Linked DNA regions of Homo sapiens: region 2 is linked to region 1. Evidence: fine-mapped expression QTL. Tissue or cell type: whole blood. Region 1 holds a variant in brackets; the other region holds the start of a gene. All regions are shown on one strand. Distances are between the middles of the regions.

What was found. PIP is the estimated chance that this variant, and not a neighbour inherited with it, causes the effect.
Region 2: it holds the start of SUCLG1, and the variant in region 1 is fine-mapped to the expression of SUCLG1 in whole blood (TOPMed, PIP above 0.99).

Annotation. Positions count from the first base shown.
Region 1 is chr2:84,401,986-84,410,195 of GRCh38, reverse strand. No RefSeq gene overlaps it. Among named protein-coding and RNA genes, the nearest start is that of SUCLG1, 53 kb to the left of the region's middle. The variant C/G (reference allele first, on the strand shown) is at 3,294.
Region 2 is chr2:84,454,757-84,462,923 of GRCh38, reverse strand. SUCLG1 (succinate-CoA ligase GDP/ADP-forming subunit alpha) reads left to right here and starts at 3,644. Exons shown (of 9, transcript NM_003849.4): 1 at 3,644-3,751. The coding sequence starts at 3,655. It also overlaps a transcript of DNAH6 not described here. RefSeq lists a silencer at 3,098-3,287 and an enhancer at 3,468-3,607.

The sequences.
Region 1 (8,210 bases):
TCTACAGCCTGTGGAACTGTGAGTCAATTAAACCTATTTTCTTCATAAATTACCAAGTTTCAGGTAGTTCTTAATAGCAGTGTGAGAACAGACTAATACAGAGTTATATACATCCTTATCTGTTTAATATCTATCTCTCCCATAAGCTGTAAGGTTGATGAAAGTAGAGATAAACTGTTTTGTTCACCCGCATTGGCCATGGTGGACTCTGCCTGGCACACAGTATGTGCATATTGAATATCTAATGAATAAATGAACAGATACTCCCATGGCACTGAGTGAAATCACATTGCATTATGGTTTAGTTTGCTTTTATTTTGCATGTTTTTACCTTATTATTTTTGTTTTTTTATCATTTGTGTCAGACATAGATAAGTGCTTAAAGACGTAACAATTTAAAAAGTCCTCTTATGCTCTCCCAGTGCTATTGCAGTACACATGTTGTGATTTTGCCAACTATTTGCTCTAAAGTGTCTAGGACCTACTTTGGCATGCATGGTTTATTTTCCACTTTAGTAGCTGAGCTAGGGAAAGAATCTATGAGCTCCTGCTATTCTTGGTATCTTCTTCCCTGTCCTTGTTGGTGAGGAAGCAAGAAATTCACGTTTATTTTGTTGGCAGTTCTAAGAAGCACCTAATACACTGAAGCTGTGATCCTCAGATTATGCACAGGAGACTGCTGGGGAAGCTTCCAACACCTGGGCCTCACACCAGTGCGATTACAGCATGATCTAGGTGGTGGGTCTGCCACTAGGTGTTTTGAATTCTCCCAGGTGATTCTAATGTGCAGCCAGGGATGAGACTATTGTCTTGGAGAAACAAACATGGCTGTGGCATCTTCTGGAGATGCTTTTGTAGAGTCTCTGCTGAAACTCGTCTAATTTTTCTGTTACAAACTCAAGCACAGAAGCTTTGCTCCAGGCTATGATCCATTTTTGTCATACACAAATGTGGAAGGAATAACCCCCCAAAGTCCCTGTGGCTTGCAAAACTTTGAAAGAGAAGTGGGGCCTGGGGTTTCTCCTTTGATTCCCTATACTCTCTAGTCAGCAAAGCAGGCAGGATTAAATGAGGTCTGCAGCCTGTGGGGCCAAGGTGATTTGGAACTTGATTATTTGGGGAGTCAGAATATTTACAATGGAATTGTCACCAGGTAAAAGTGACATTTATCTAGCCTTAGGCCTTTCAAACTGGGATTCTAGGTGGTCGTTCAATTTGCAATCAGAAGGCCTAGGTTTGATTCTCAATATTAATACTTACCATATGTGTGATTCTGGGCAAGTCACTTAACTCTCTGAGCCTCAAAATCTTTATTTGCCAAATGGAAAGAATCGTATATATATCACTAGATTTTCTTGTGAGGATTAAATGAAGAATGTTTGTAAAATGATTGTACTGAGTACATAGCAAATAGTCAACAAATGGTATCTGTTGGTAATAATAAAAGCAAATATAAGCTCTCTGAATACTTTACATGGCTAGGTTGTAGAGTCTGTGACAGTAGGAATAATTTTATTGGTGTTTCTATACTCAACCCCTGCAGTATATCCTAATAACATGTGTGGAACTGAATTGTTTCCTAAAAATTGTTTTGTAATGGATGTAAAAAGTGTTTAGATCAAGTTTCTCCAATTTGCAGCCTGTGGTGGCTTTGAATGCGGCCCAACACAAATTTGTAAATTTTTTAAAAACATTATGAGGTTTTTTTTTTGTGTGTGTGATTTTTTAAAGCTCATCAGCTATCCTTCTGGCCCAGGACAATTCTTCTTCTTCCAATGTGGCCCAGGGAAGCCTTTAAAGATTGGACATCCCTTGTTTAGATGAAGCATTCCTACACATTGGCATAATGTGAATCCAACCAGTCTGTTTTATAAAGTTAGGCAAATCCTTCTAACTAGAAGGTATACCTTAATTTCGCCAGATAGAAGGCAAGTGTGTTGCATATAGGGTTGTCTTCACTAAACAAACTTCCCATGAGTTTCTTGATCACTTCCCATGAGTTTCTTGATCACACAGATGTTTGGAGTCTTTGTGATGACTTTAGTTTTAAGTCTCTGGCCCAGGACAGCCTATGTGTGGCTGAGTAGGGCTCTGATGAGTCAATGATTTTCACCTGGTTGAACATTAAGTCACCTGAGAAGCTTTTAAAACTCCTGATGTCCGGGCTGCTGATTCTTTGAGGATGAGACTCAGATATCGTGTCTAACTGAAAGGTAGGGGCTGCAAATCTGAACATAATGCTGCATTTCTTAGACTCCCTTGTGTTTTGGTTTTACAAATGACCCAGCTTTCTCCTAGCTGATACGCTCATGCAAGATTAGAAGAAGGAAGTGAACACTGTGAGGCAAATATAGTTGTGGAGGTGCTTTAAAAAATTCTATAGCATCTTGTAGCAGAGGGCCTAGTGTCTGGTTTCAGCTTTGTGGGTATTGAGAAGCAAATATTAATACCTAATTTCTGATAACACCAGAAGTAGGCAATTTTGGTGCTAATTGGTGGCTTCTTGATCCCAGTTTCCTGATCACAGCATAGGCAGCAGTTGTCTAGGTGGGCAAGTTCTGCATTGTTCTGAGAGTCATTCCTGGGAGCTCAGCTCAATTATGCTAGTTTTTTTAAATAAGTCACCTAATAATAAATTCTAAGTTCCTTTATACTAAAACTTGCCAGAATGAATTCTGCTGTGTGCCCTGAACCTGGAGTAATCGCTGCTAGAAGTGATTGTAGGTAACAAACATTCAGGGATGGGAAACGGGGGGATTCCATGGGTTAGTTGGGTTTGAAGGCCCCTGGGTTCCAGTAACCGGTACAGGAGGGGCTACTGGTAGATCATGACCAGGAGAAACAAAACTTTGTTACATAAGTTCCAGGGTAATCTGGAAAAAGTGCCAATTGGACTCATGGCTCTCATGGACTGAGTGACAATATAGTTGCAATAGCAATACGTGGACCATGGGGATGTGCTGGCTACTTACAACAGCATTTGAAAACTTAAAAAGACTTGGCATTTCAAATTTTTTATTTTGAGGCTTAGAGAACTAGTGAGTTTCTTCTGCCCTAAAATAATCTCTTATCCCTTGTTGATGCAGAGTTTATATAATCAAAATCATCTGCAGTGTCTGTTGTGTGTGTGTTGGGGGAGGGGGGTATATTAATTACAACACAGGTGGAGCTCACAGCCTCACCAGATCACCTGTGAAAGTTGAGCATTTATGAGAAGGAGTAGGAATCTAAAATTGGGAATTACCACATTTGGGAGGATTTGGAGAACCCTGTATCTCTCAATCCTACTGAGT[C/G]GCCCTTGTACCAGAAGCCTATGTTTCTTATATCTTGGGCTCTGCAAATACCCTCTTTCACCAGGCAGACACATGTCCATGGGATAGGGAAGGTGGCATGGACACAGGGAGGGAGGTGCTTCCATTCTGCTGCTGCCAATTATGGCAGAGGCAGTGTGGTACTGGAACAAGCATTTGTGGTGCGGCTCCCTGATCCCTTGGCTTGCTTTCTGACGTGGCAGATGCTCTCTCGGAGGGTAAGTTCTGATGGGTAGTTTTAAAAGTTGTTCTTGAAATCTCAACCTTGAGCCTGCTCTTTTGGCATTTCTGCCAGCCACCTAATTACACAGAATAATTTTTTTTTCTGTCTCAAGTAGCTAGAGAAGATTCTGTCTTCTGCAACTGAACCCAGATACAGAGGGATAACAAATTAATTCATCACTAGCTTTTAACATTCCAGCTCAGATTACATGATTAAAGTCCTTTAAGGGCCTTAAAGGACCTATTTTCTAGCCCATAGAGAAATAGCTTCTCACAACCATAAGAGGAAGGTGGATAGGTTCTGCTTGAATCCCACCAGGGATAAGTTTTTTAGGGAACTCATTCCATTTTGAACAAATTCCAACTATTAAAGAAATTAGACTTGTCTGAAACCTATTTGTAACTTGAGCCCATTGATTTAAATTCCCTGTTAGCACATTGGTTTAGCTTTCTGCTTAGCTAAAAACTCAAATTCCTCCACCTGATCCTTCTGTAACATGGTTCCCAGATTCCTTAATGCTGCATACAACTGGTTAAAAGACAGAGAGAAAGAGGTGAGGAGGAGAGAAGAGTTAGTTATTCTTGGTGGGGATTGTGCAAGTTGTCTGCATGTGCAGAATGTGCTGGTATAAATCTTTATGCAGAAAAGCAAAGCCAGAAGAGGGCTGGTTGAAGTATGTAATTAAAAACCTTCTTATTTAAAAACAGTCCTGGTACCAGCTCTTGTTCATTTCTATGTTTCCAGCCTCCCTGGAACATTTTCTTCTCACGATAATTTATCCTTCAACTACTTGTTCATCTTTGTGTGTAAATGAATAATTATTGGGTCATATACTATGTTGATAGCATGAGTTTTATTTTATCCAATGAGTTGTCATCCATACTGAAAAAGAGACAGGAAAGGGGAATAAAAATTAAAAGCAAATCATAAGAGGGGATTAAACCACATTCCGCTGTTATTTTTATTTCTCAAACTACCACTATCATCAAAAATCGTTGCTTATGTGTCTATTGTCTGTCTTCCTCCATCAGAATGTAAATTCCAAGAAGGCAAATACTTTGTTTTAATCCTTATTGTATCCTTGAAGCCTGGTCCGTTTTGTCCTCTGTTTAAACAGTGTAGATTCTAAATATATATATAAATTTAGTGGATGAATGAATGTTTGCAGACACAATGACAAAAAGGAAAGAAGGAGGTAAAGGAGCAGAAGGGAGATTGTGTTAGTTTTCTACTACGGCAATAACAAATTACCACAAATGTAGCCACTTAAAACAACACATATTATCTCACAGTTTGCATGGGTCAGGAATCTGGGCACTGCTTGACTAGTCCCTCTGCCAGGGTCTCCCCAGACTGTGTTCTCATCTGGAGGCTCATCTGAGAAAATATCCACTTCTGAGCTCACTCAGATTGTTGGCAGGATTCATTTCCTTGCAGTGTGACTGAAGGCCTCAGCTTCTTAACCTGTTGTTGAGTGGAGGCTATTCTCTGCCACATGGTCCTGCCACAGGCAAGTCACACATGGCTGTTTGCGTATTCTAGTAGGCTAAGATGGTCTTATATAGTGTAACATAATTAAAGTGACATCCTGTCACCTTGGCAGTATTTTATTGGTGAGAAGCAAGGCACAGATTCTGCCCCAACTCGAGGGGATTGTAGAAGGGTGGGACTCGCCAGGGGCACCTTAGGGCATATCTGCCATAGGAATCCAGGAAGGAATATAAATGAACAGGGAGTAAGAGATGTGGCATTTTGTTTTTCAAGCATTTCTTCTTATGAAATTTACCCTCCATTTCAAAATCAGAATATCCTACAGCTCACAGATTCAGGTTAGGAAGCCCCCAGTCCTAGGCAGTTTAGAAATTCTCAAGGTCTGGAATTGGTGGCTTGCTTAATGATTCACATTGTTTGGAATGTCTCTCTGGATTTTAGTTTCTCTCTGGTGAAGAAGAAATTTCAAGGAGAGAGTTAGATGGGACTTGGGTCCCTTACTACTTAAGAAGTAGAAGAGTCTTTGTTAACAAGATGGGTAAAAAAATTTTTCTTTTTTCAAGATGGGTAAAATTTTAATCTGAGAACTTGGAGTATCCAGCAGGCTTGCCTGCAAAACCTGTGTGTGTATATAGCTAAAAGAGTAGATTATATATACATATTCGAGAATCACAAGAAAAGCAACAGAACACATTGACTATGCTTGCATCAGAGGAACCTGTGAAAGACCTAACATATTCAATTGAATCTAAGACATCATCAATTGTTAGGCATGCTATCATTTATATGCCACTAAGGAATAAAAAGCGAAGTGCTGGAAATTTAACAATGACAAGTCACTGGTTAGAAGACACATCACTAGTTTAGAGATATTAGTACAAAAAATTTGTGTCTTAGAATTGAAGACTACGATTGGTTTTTCAGAGCAAACGTATCTAGAATTGGTATTGCCAAAAGGAAGCCCTGATTCTCAGCTAAGTTGAGGTCTAGAAGACCTAGAAATATGACACTTATTACTCTGCTGTCACTAGAAAAATAAAACATTAGAGATGGAAATGTCTTTAGGAGTCATTTCACCCAGCCTCCCTCCTAAGGAAGGGACAGATGGTCTTCCAGCCTCTGCCTAAATATTCTGAGAGTTGAGGAACTCACTTCCTTACACAATACCCTGTTTCATTTTGGGGTGTATTTTGTCAGGTAATGGGATCCCAGTTGAAACCTAAACCATGCTTATATAGATTTGACTGTGTATGTAAATATATTAATGGTTAATAGAGTAGGTGTCACCTGTGGAATGATAAAATGAGAGTCCTGTAGACCCTCACCTTGAGGGGAGACAACTTTAGGCTGACAAGATGTGCCAACGACAGTGCCTCAATTTATTCATTCTTTCTTTAATTCAGTGAGAGTCCCTACCCATGTGCCAAGGTCTAAATCAATGAGAGACACAAGTTCTCAGTGTTCATTCCTCACAGCTCCCTGCTCCTCCACCTCCAGTGTAGAAAACACAGAAGCAGTCCTCTAATTGGACAGGTTTGGCTTGGGTGCCTGCATGTGGTCCAGTCGGCCACCCCCAGTGTGGCTGTGACATAGTACAGACACTGTCACTGGTCTTTCCCTCCTGTGGGACCATCACACAACAGGTGTTTTGGGTCCCTCTGTACACTACATTGCTGGGTGTCAGCTGGAGATGGGGATGCACCATGACACAGTGCTTTGCCTTGGACCTCAAAGAACCAGATTGAGAGTGAGTGCAGAGGAGGTGAAAAATAATTATGTATCAGATTATTTTTATTAATCACAGCAGAAACACCCCTGATGAATTGTCTCCAAATAGTTGGGGATTATTATAGTAGAGTAGGACCTTCCTTGAGGTTTCCATCACAGAAATCTGAGGGACAGAGCCAGTTACACATTATTTACCAAAGCCTAATGAACCCTGCTTTGACCACCAGTGAAGAAATCTATGGAGAAACACAATTATATTTTTACCAGATGTACTCATGATAAACTGTACCATTACAGTGGTTCTTGTCATTAATAAAAATGAACATTTTATTTAAACTACTGGTAATACAGTAATAAAGTGCTAATGTGTTTTATGTATTCATATTTGCACATAATCTCATTCTTTGGCATAATTAATGAGAAAATATTCAAACTCTTTTTTAAAAATTATACTTTAAGTTCTGGTGCAGAACGTGCAGGTTTGTTACATAGGTATACACATGCCATGGTGGTTTGCTGCATTCATCAACCTGTCATCTACATTAGGTATTTCTCCTAATGCTATCCCTCCCCTAGTCCCCACCTCCGACAGGTCCTGGTGAGTGATGTTCCCCTCCCTGTGTCCGTGTGTTCTCATTGTTCATCTCCCACTTATGAGTGAGAACATGCAGTATTTGGTTTTCTGTTCTTGTGTTAGTTTGCTGAGAATGATGGTTTCTAGCGTCATCCATGTCCCTGCAAAGGACAAAAACTCATCCTTTTTTATGGCTGGATAGTATTCCATGGTGTATATGTGCCGCATTTTCTTTATCTAGTCTATCATTGATGGGCATTTGGGTTGGTTCCAAGTCTTTGCTACTGTGAACAGTGCCGCAATAAACATAAGTGTGTATGTGTCTTCATAGTAGAATGATATATAATCCTTTGAGTATATACCCAGTAATGGGATTGCTGGGTCAAATGGTATTTCTGGTTCTAGATCCTTGAGGAATTGCCACACTGTCTTCCAGAATGGTTGAACTAATTAACACTCCCACCAACAGTGTAAAAGCGTTCCTATTTCTCCACATCCTCTCCAGCATATGTTGTTTCCTGACTTTAATCATCGCCATTCTAACTGGCATGAGATAGTATCACATTGTGGCTTTGATTTGCATTTTTCTGATGAACAGTGATGATGAGCTTTTTTCATATGTCTGTTGGCTGCATAAATGTCTTCTTTTGAGAAGTGTCTGTTTATATCCTTTGCTCACTTTTTGATGGGGTTGTTTTTTTTCTTGTAAATTTGTTTAGATCCTTGTAGATTCCGGATATTAGCCCTTTGTCAGATGGATAGATTGCAAAATTTTTCTCTCATTCTGTAGGTTGCCTGTTCACTCTGATAGTTTCTTTTGCTGTGCAGAAGCTCTTTAGTTTAATTAGATCCCATTTGTCAATTTGGCTTTTGTTGCCATTGC
Region 2 (8,167 bases), 53 kb before region 1:
AGGTTCAACTTTCTTTCTTGGTATGCATTTTACTCACAGGAATATTAACACATCTTGATACACCAAATATTGCCCTGCCTGCTGATGAGGACTGCTCCAGCTAGCTTCCTGCCATTGCAATTCTCTAGGAAGGAGGCAGACATAGCCTTAACAGTTAGGCCTGCCTTCCAAATTCAGGTTTCCTCAAGCATTCTCTGACCAAGACCTATCTAGCTAACTAAGGTGGACTCATGAATTTCTGCAGTTCTATAGGGATTTATCCTGAGATTTAATACCAGTAATGTTTTGGTAAGAAGCCCTCACCCACAAACTTGGCTGGGAGTGGAAGGAAACAAGAACATTAAACTGCCAACTGTAGACTCAGAAGCATCAGTCCCCTTGTTAATCCAAAATATCTGAGACAGGTCTCAGTCAATTTAGAAAATTTATTTTGCCAAGGTTAAGGATGCACTCGTGACTCAGGAAGTCTGGATGACAGGTGCCCAAGGTGGTTGGGGGTACAGCTTGCTTTTATACATTTTAGGAAGGCATGACATATCAATCAATATTTGTAAGATGTACATTGGTCCATCCAGTAAGGCAGGGACTTCCTGGTTAGAAGTAGATAAGAGACAAAAGGTTGCATTCTTTTGAGTCCTTGATCAGCCTTCCACTGAATACACAATTTAGTCTGGCTCAGTGAATCTGCATTTTTACATAAACAATAGGGCAGAGGGAGCAATCAGATATGCATCTGTCTCAGGTGAGCCTCAGAGTGATGACTGAGTTCTGCCTGTCCTTTATCCACCAGGAATTTCCTGTGGGCAAATTGTGAGGGAGGTATGTAGCTTATTATCTTTGTAGCTATATTATTTAGGAATAAAATGGGAGGTAGGTTTGCCTCAGGCAGTTCCCAGCTGGACTTTTCTCTTGGCTTGATGACTTTGGGGTCCCGAGATTTATTTTCCTTTCACACCCTCATACAGTGAATTCTAGTCTTTTGCTTATCTGAGCCGGCTGGGATGTGGGGGTGAGAATTCAAAGACAAGTTTGGCCACTTCCTATCAAACTTCAGAGAGAAGTAGCTCCTAGACTGCCCTCCTTATGGATGTGGAGGTAAGGCTTGTTGTCTTCAGCTTTAGAGCTTTAGACAAAGTTTTGAGACAAATAGAAATATCCTATTCTAATTTGGTTACTCACTTTAGTTAAAACCTTTAAAACATGATCCTGCCATGTAAAAAAGACAGTTCTTTAATGATAATAACTACCATTATCGACTATTTGGTACAAGGTGACAGTAGCTTTATATACTAAATGTATTAAATGTTCACAACACTCTTATGAAATAGGGAGTTTCATACCCATCTCAGTAATAAAACCTGAAACCCAGAGGTCATGTAGCCAGTGGCAGAGTTGGAATTTGAACCCAGACCTGTCTGATTTCCAAACTCAATCTGCATACAAAGATGAGTGGTGTGGTATTGACTAGTGTGGTTGTCCCCTACCTATGAGCTACAGAATTGAGGTAGGGGTGTTCCCGGACCAAACTGAGGGTTGGGCTGCTATTTTTTGTGGCCCAATAATGAGATGTAGATGAACTGGGGAGGAAGAGAGTTTTTATTTCTGCAACCGATTACAGGGAGAAGGCCTGGAAATTATCATCAGACCAACTTAAAATTACAGTTTTCCAGAGCTTATATACCTTCTAAGCTATATGTTTACTTGTAAGTGTGCATTTATCTAAAGACATAAGTGATTAACTTCTTTTAATCTATAACTAAGGTCTGAGTACTGAAGACCATCCTCTGAAGCCTCAATAAATTTACTTAATCTACATGGGTTTAGGTGCTGGGGTGATTACCCTTATCTTATCCCCTGCTAAATCACAGAGGTTTGGAGAGTTCTTTCAGACCTCCAATAAACTTGTTTGTGGAGGCCTGGGGAGTTTCTTCGGACCTCCAATAAAACTTGTTTAATCCTAAATGGGTCCTGTTAAGAATTTCTTCATTAATTTGTCATGCTTCAAGGCCCAGGAAAGGCCTAGGCAAAACCCTTGGTGGGTTTCTGTTACATCTCAGCCTTTGTATAAGGGCACTGGCTTTTAATATTTAACTTAACCACTCAGTCAGCACTGAAACATTGTTATGGAGGCCTGCGTTAGTGAGACCTGGTCTGCCACAGGGGTGCAGTTATTACAAGAGGTTGAAATATCCTAAGTCCATCAAACATTGCCTGTGGATCCAAAAAATAATCTATATACTACTATTTCTCCTATATATATCAATTCAATTCAACGATGAGTTATTTGTGTAAGGCATTGTTCTAGGTGCTGGGGATACTCCAGGATACAAAACAAACAAAAATCCCCGTCTTCATGGAAATACAAATTTTCATTAAAAGTGTACTGAAATTATATTTTTTGTCATCATGCATTTTATCAATTAAATGAAACTAAACATATAACTTATCAAGCGACAGCTCAGGAATAATTTTGCTATTTAAAATAGCAAGGGATTTTCTATTTATTTGCCATAAAAATGTCCATTTTGTTATAATGGATATATCTGGAAACCACTGATACTATTTAACTCTGAGGAATTTAGTTATCACAAGAACATGATCCATGAGGGAGGAGTTTATTTGCAGTGAAGTCCAACCTGTTAATGACAATATTTGGATCATAAAGGAAGTATTGGGCAATCTCCTGGGGTAATCCCACTCATCCATCCCACAGCTCAGTGCCAATTATAATGACTACCTAAGTAAATTAGGATTGCAATTTTATTGACAATTCTGATGAGGAATCTCAGGAGCACGATTTTCGGCAGAGACGCAGATTACTTCATCTCTTGTTTACCTTTTGACTCTGGGACTCTCTGAGGTTCCTTCTAAAGCTGTTACAGAAGAGGGAACTGTTTGTCCAATCAGGGAGCAAAGTCACATTTGACCTCGAATTTCAGCCCTTAGGATCCTCAGGGAATAAACACTCATGCACTTAGTGCTAGTCAAAGACTGCATGATTATTTAACTAAAAAAATTCACATTCCAAGAAGTTAACTGTCAGTAAGATAGGTTTTGGTCTTTCTCATCACATCTTTCCCTTCACAGGCCACCAGTGCCAGTTCGAATTCCCGTCCCCAGCGGCAACCCTTCCGGGTCCAGGCACAGGTACGCGGTGAGAAATATTATTCTCTCTAATAGCAAACGAGGAAAACGAAGGGGGAAGGAGATGGGCCTGGGATACAAAGTTCTGGCACTGCTCTTCGCACCTCACCTCGCTGTTTCTTCCCTCCTAGTCTTCAAGTCCCTTGTCTCCCCGGTCTCACTGCCGCTCTTCCCTCGCTCCCTTCCCGCCGCCTCACTCAAAAGCTACGAACCAGTCGCGGCCGTCAGACTACATTGCCCACAATGCCACGCGCTGGCCAGTCTCGCGTGGGGTTTTCCCTCAGCTGCTGTTATAATTAATGTTAATCAAACCCACATTTCTAGGAAGGAGCCGAGTTATTATCTGCCTCTCCGATAGGATGCCTCTTTGTCTTCACCTGCCATTCCCGCTGTTTCGTGAAGAATCCTCTGTAAAGGGAAATTTGTTCAGGCGACTGCTGTGGCCACCCTCTGCCTCCTCCGGCCTCTGCCCCTGGGAGGTCCCCGGGGGCCTGGGAGTGTCATTGGCGTATGACCGCAACCCTTGCCGCTGCCGCTGACATCGCTACCATGGTCTCCGGCAGCAGCGGCCTCGCCGCCGCCCGTCTCCTGTCGCGCAGCTTCCTCCGTGAGTCCAGCCAGTACTGTCTTCCTGGCGCCCGCGGGTTATTGGCCCCGCCGGACCCAACCTCCTGGCCCAGGCCGCGGCTGGGCCCTCAGGGCTGGACCTCGGCGGGGGCCTGGGAGCCGCTTGGGATTCCGGCTTCGAGTCGGGGACCCCTACGGTGGAAGGAGCTTTGCTGGATACGTGGGGCGGGGGGCATGACTTAGGCCGCTGGCAGATGGAGATATTGGGTGGCTGAGCCAGGATTCGGGTCCGGGAGCCCTGCAAATTTGGGAGCTTGCTCTCGGCCCCGCGGTGACAAATGACAGGATGGGGGTGGCGTCTAGACTGGCCTTATTTGGAGTTGGGGATGAAGAGGTCCAAGGTGAACTTGGTGGGGAAGGTAAGGGTCTGGGTTGAGAGGTAGAGGAAGAGTGTCTCAGTAGGAAGTTGGGGGATGAGGCTGTCCCTAGTACGGAAAGGTCCTGCACTTCGAATTCCCCCTCTGCAGGATTGTATGTCAGGGAAAGATGGTTTCTGCACACGGAGTGGGGTCGGCATAGCCGCATAGACTACTAGAAGCTTATGGTTGGCTGGGACCTAAACCAGCTTATTTGCAGTGTCTCCACCAGGCGATTTGTGGACACATCCGTTCCCGAAAACTTAGTACCCAAGGTTGCTAGTCTTTGAGACACGCTGACTATGGAAAATTCTTGCCATATTCAAAGTCTCTGTGCTTGTCAGGTAGGTTATAGTAGAAAGAAACTTTGGAATCAGCCACATCAGGGTTTGAAGTCTGGCTAGTCCCTTTTCAGTCTGTGTAATAACCCTGGACACTTAATCTGTTTTTCAGTGTTTCCAATCACATGAAAATATTAACACATTTTAAGGGGCCTGAAGCACCATCACTTGTAAGGTGGACCATTATTTTGTTTACCACTAACAATGAAGAACGATTGCTTATTAAAACTGTGACACACCAGTGGTTGTCACATGTATCCTGGTTTTTTAAAAAGTGAAAAAAAATGTGCATTTTAGCAATGATGATGTACAGGATGATCTGGGTTCACTGCAGAATAAGTGGAGCAATTTATATAAAGCATCTCGTATGTAACAAACACTCAAAGTTAGTTTTCTTTTTCCGCTTTGCTCTTAATTCTGCTTGTACTGAATATTTTATGAGACTTAATTCCTTTCTTGAGAAGATTACATTCTGAAAGTGTACATTGATGAGTGTGCACTCAATAGCTAACACTTAGTTGCCAATCACTTGAGGACAAAGGTCTGGCTAGATAACGTTAGCAAGTATGAAATGGTTTGTTTGGTAAAGCTTTCTGGAGATTCTTGAGAGTGTTGTAGGCAGAAGGACAAAAAGAATTCATTATACCCAGTAATCACTCAGGTCAATAAAGTTTGAGCACCAAGAATGAAGTATATTGGATATGGTTTTAAACCAGCTTAATTTGAATAGATAGTGGGTTAGAATGTAGAAGATCAGATGTGCAGCACAGCCACTGTGGTGGGAAACCCTAGGAAGAAGTTGCCCACCTGTGTCTTTCGCTTCTGTGGTCTTGCTAGTCTGAGGTTCTGAAAGATCCTAGCCTCAGGTAGGTCTGCTGTCTAGAAAAATCTAGAGAATAAAGGAAGAGTGTCTAAAAGATCTAGTTCCTTACTCCACCCTTAGCAGTCCTCTCAATCCTCTTCCCACAGAACTGGAAGTGTGTTCTTCCTAGACTCCCAGGATCATTTGGCCCTAGAGTGACCATCTGGTTTAGTTTTGTTACTGGAGTGGGCTTGAATTATTCAAGTCATGTGATTAACTTGTTATTACGGGTCTGAGATTTAAACCAAGATGTATTCTATATTAAGAGGGGTTACAGACAACAATGCTTAATGTGTAAACACCTCTAAATTCACAAAACTCTAACTCCTCTTTCCCATGCCACATTTCCGAGCCCATTTTCACTCCCACTAGAAAAATAGCAGCTACAACATCACCTTGCAAACTTTTTTTTTAAAAAGGGACCAGAAATTATTTAGTCTGTGAAGCTAATAGAGCTACAGATGTTAGGGAATTTTGTTCCCTCTGTTAAGTTTCAACTTATGGTACATTACTTGCTGAAGGTCATAGTGTTGCAATATTGATTAGAGTTAACAGCCACAGAAAAAACTCAAGTGAACACTGGTAGATGCCTTCCGGAGCCCTGTTTTATAGCTTATGAAAAAAGGAAAAGTGGCCTGGCACGGTGGCTCATGCCTGTAATCCCAGCACTTTGGGAGGCTGAGGCGGGTAGATCACAAGGTCAGGAGTTCAAGACCAGCCTGGCCAAGATGGTGAAACCCCGTCTCTACTAAAAATACAAAAATTAGCCAGGTGTGGTGGCAGGCGCCTGTAATCCCAGCTACTCAGGAGGCTAAGGCAGGAGAATTGCTTGAACCCGGGAGGTGGAGCTTGCAGTGAGCTGAGATCGTGCCACTGTACTCCAGCCTGGGCAACAGAGTGAGACTCTGTCTCAGAAAAAGAGAAAAAAGGAAAAGGATCCAGTTGAAGTGGAGAGAGAAAATACAATGAAAAATGAGGAAGAGTTCTTCCATGAGAAAGTTTAAGGATTTCATAAGCACCCTTGAAGTTGAAATAGTGAAGTTTTAAGAGAAGCATAAAGTAATGCAAGGTCTTTTTAAAACTGGTCAGTAGTTTCTGTAACTTGAATCTTTTAGAATAAATAGGGAATAAAAGCCAGTATTTTTGAACCTCAGAATTTTGGTATTTTAATGCCAGAAAGTAAACCTTAAAACCCAACTGGTCCCATACCTTTGTACGGCAGATGAGGAAATCCCAAAAGTTTCCAGTGAGTATCAGAAGTGATACTAGCACCCAGGTCTTCTGACTCTGCAGTATCCTTTCCGCCAGCATGTACCATGTGATAACTTAAGCTTTTTTCGAAGCTCTGATTTTTTTTTGGCAGTCTTAGTGATGTGTTGAGAAGGTGACTATCCTGCTCAAAGGTGTTGCCTTCCTTTTCCCCGTGTTTGCCAAGTGCGTAGGCCTGTTTTTCGAATCAGAGATGCATTTAAAGTGTAGTTTGGAAAATGAGATCCTCAACAGTGATGTTGTGGATATTAGCATCTGTTGCCATTGCATGTAATAACCAAATCTTTATTTCAGAAATACAAAATAGCCTTGATTCAGATGTACCAGTGTAGCCATGAGAAAGTGATTTGATTTTCTGACATCAAATTTGTTTCTCCATAGAAATGTAATTGGGAATATTAAAAATAATTTAAGTACAGGGCAACAATTTCATTTCATCAGGGGACTGGCATACCATAGACCCACATTTTTTTTTTTTTTTTTTGTTTTGAGACGGAGTCTTGCTCTGTCGCCCAGGCTGGAGTGCAGTGGCGTGATCTCTGCTCACTGCAAGCTCCGCCTCCCAGGTTCAAGCCGTTCTCCTGCCTCAGCCTCCCCAGTAGCTGGGACTACAGGCACCCGCCACCACACCTGGCTAATTTTTTTGTATTTTTAGTAGAGATGGGGTTTCACTGTGTTAGCCAGGATGGTCTCGATCTCCTGACATTGTGATCCGCCCACCTCAGCCTCCCAAAGTGCTGGGATTACAGGCGTGATAGACCCACATTTTTTTACATTATAACATTTCTTACATTAGGTTGTGTCTTATTACTGATATATATGTTTTTTTTGAGACAGAGTTTTGCTCTTATTGCTCAGGCTGGAGTGCAATGGCACAATCTCAGCTCACCGCATCCTCTGCCTCCTGGGCTCAAGCCATTCTCCTGCCTCAGCCTCCCGACTAGCTGGGATTACAGGCATGTGCCACCATGTCCGGCTAATTTTGTATTTTTAGTAGAGACGGGGTTTCTCCATGTTGGTCAGGCTGGTCTCAAACTCCTGACCTCAGGTGATCCGCCCGCCTCATTTTTTCTTTTTTACCAGTAATTAATAGTACTTCTTAAAAATCAATGGTGTTTTATATTTGATGAAATATGGTACTTACAGCTTATTAAACTTCACTCGTAAGTCAATATTAAATGAATATATAATTTAACATTTGAATAGTGGGTTGTTTGGAGTTTAGGGGTAAGTGGCTGCTAGCTACTCTGCTGTATTATAAGGTCCTGTAGGTGTAGACTGCAGTAGCCTGTGTCTTACATATGCATAATACATATGGTTAATAAGTGTACATTTGTTAAATTCATGAGTACGTGCACGAATAAATGTTTACCAGGGACACAGTTTGAGAGGTGAGTTGAAGGAGTATTGAGTATTTCATGAATAGAGCCTTGGGTTATTGGTTAGGAGCATGGTACTGGTCATACAAGGCCCATGGTTTGAGTCTCTCCTGGGCAGGTGCTCTTTGACCATAGATTGCATCATTCATCCCACCAGCCATTTTATAAATGATGTGTTACTATCTGTGG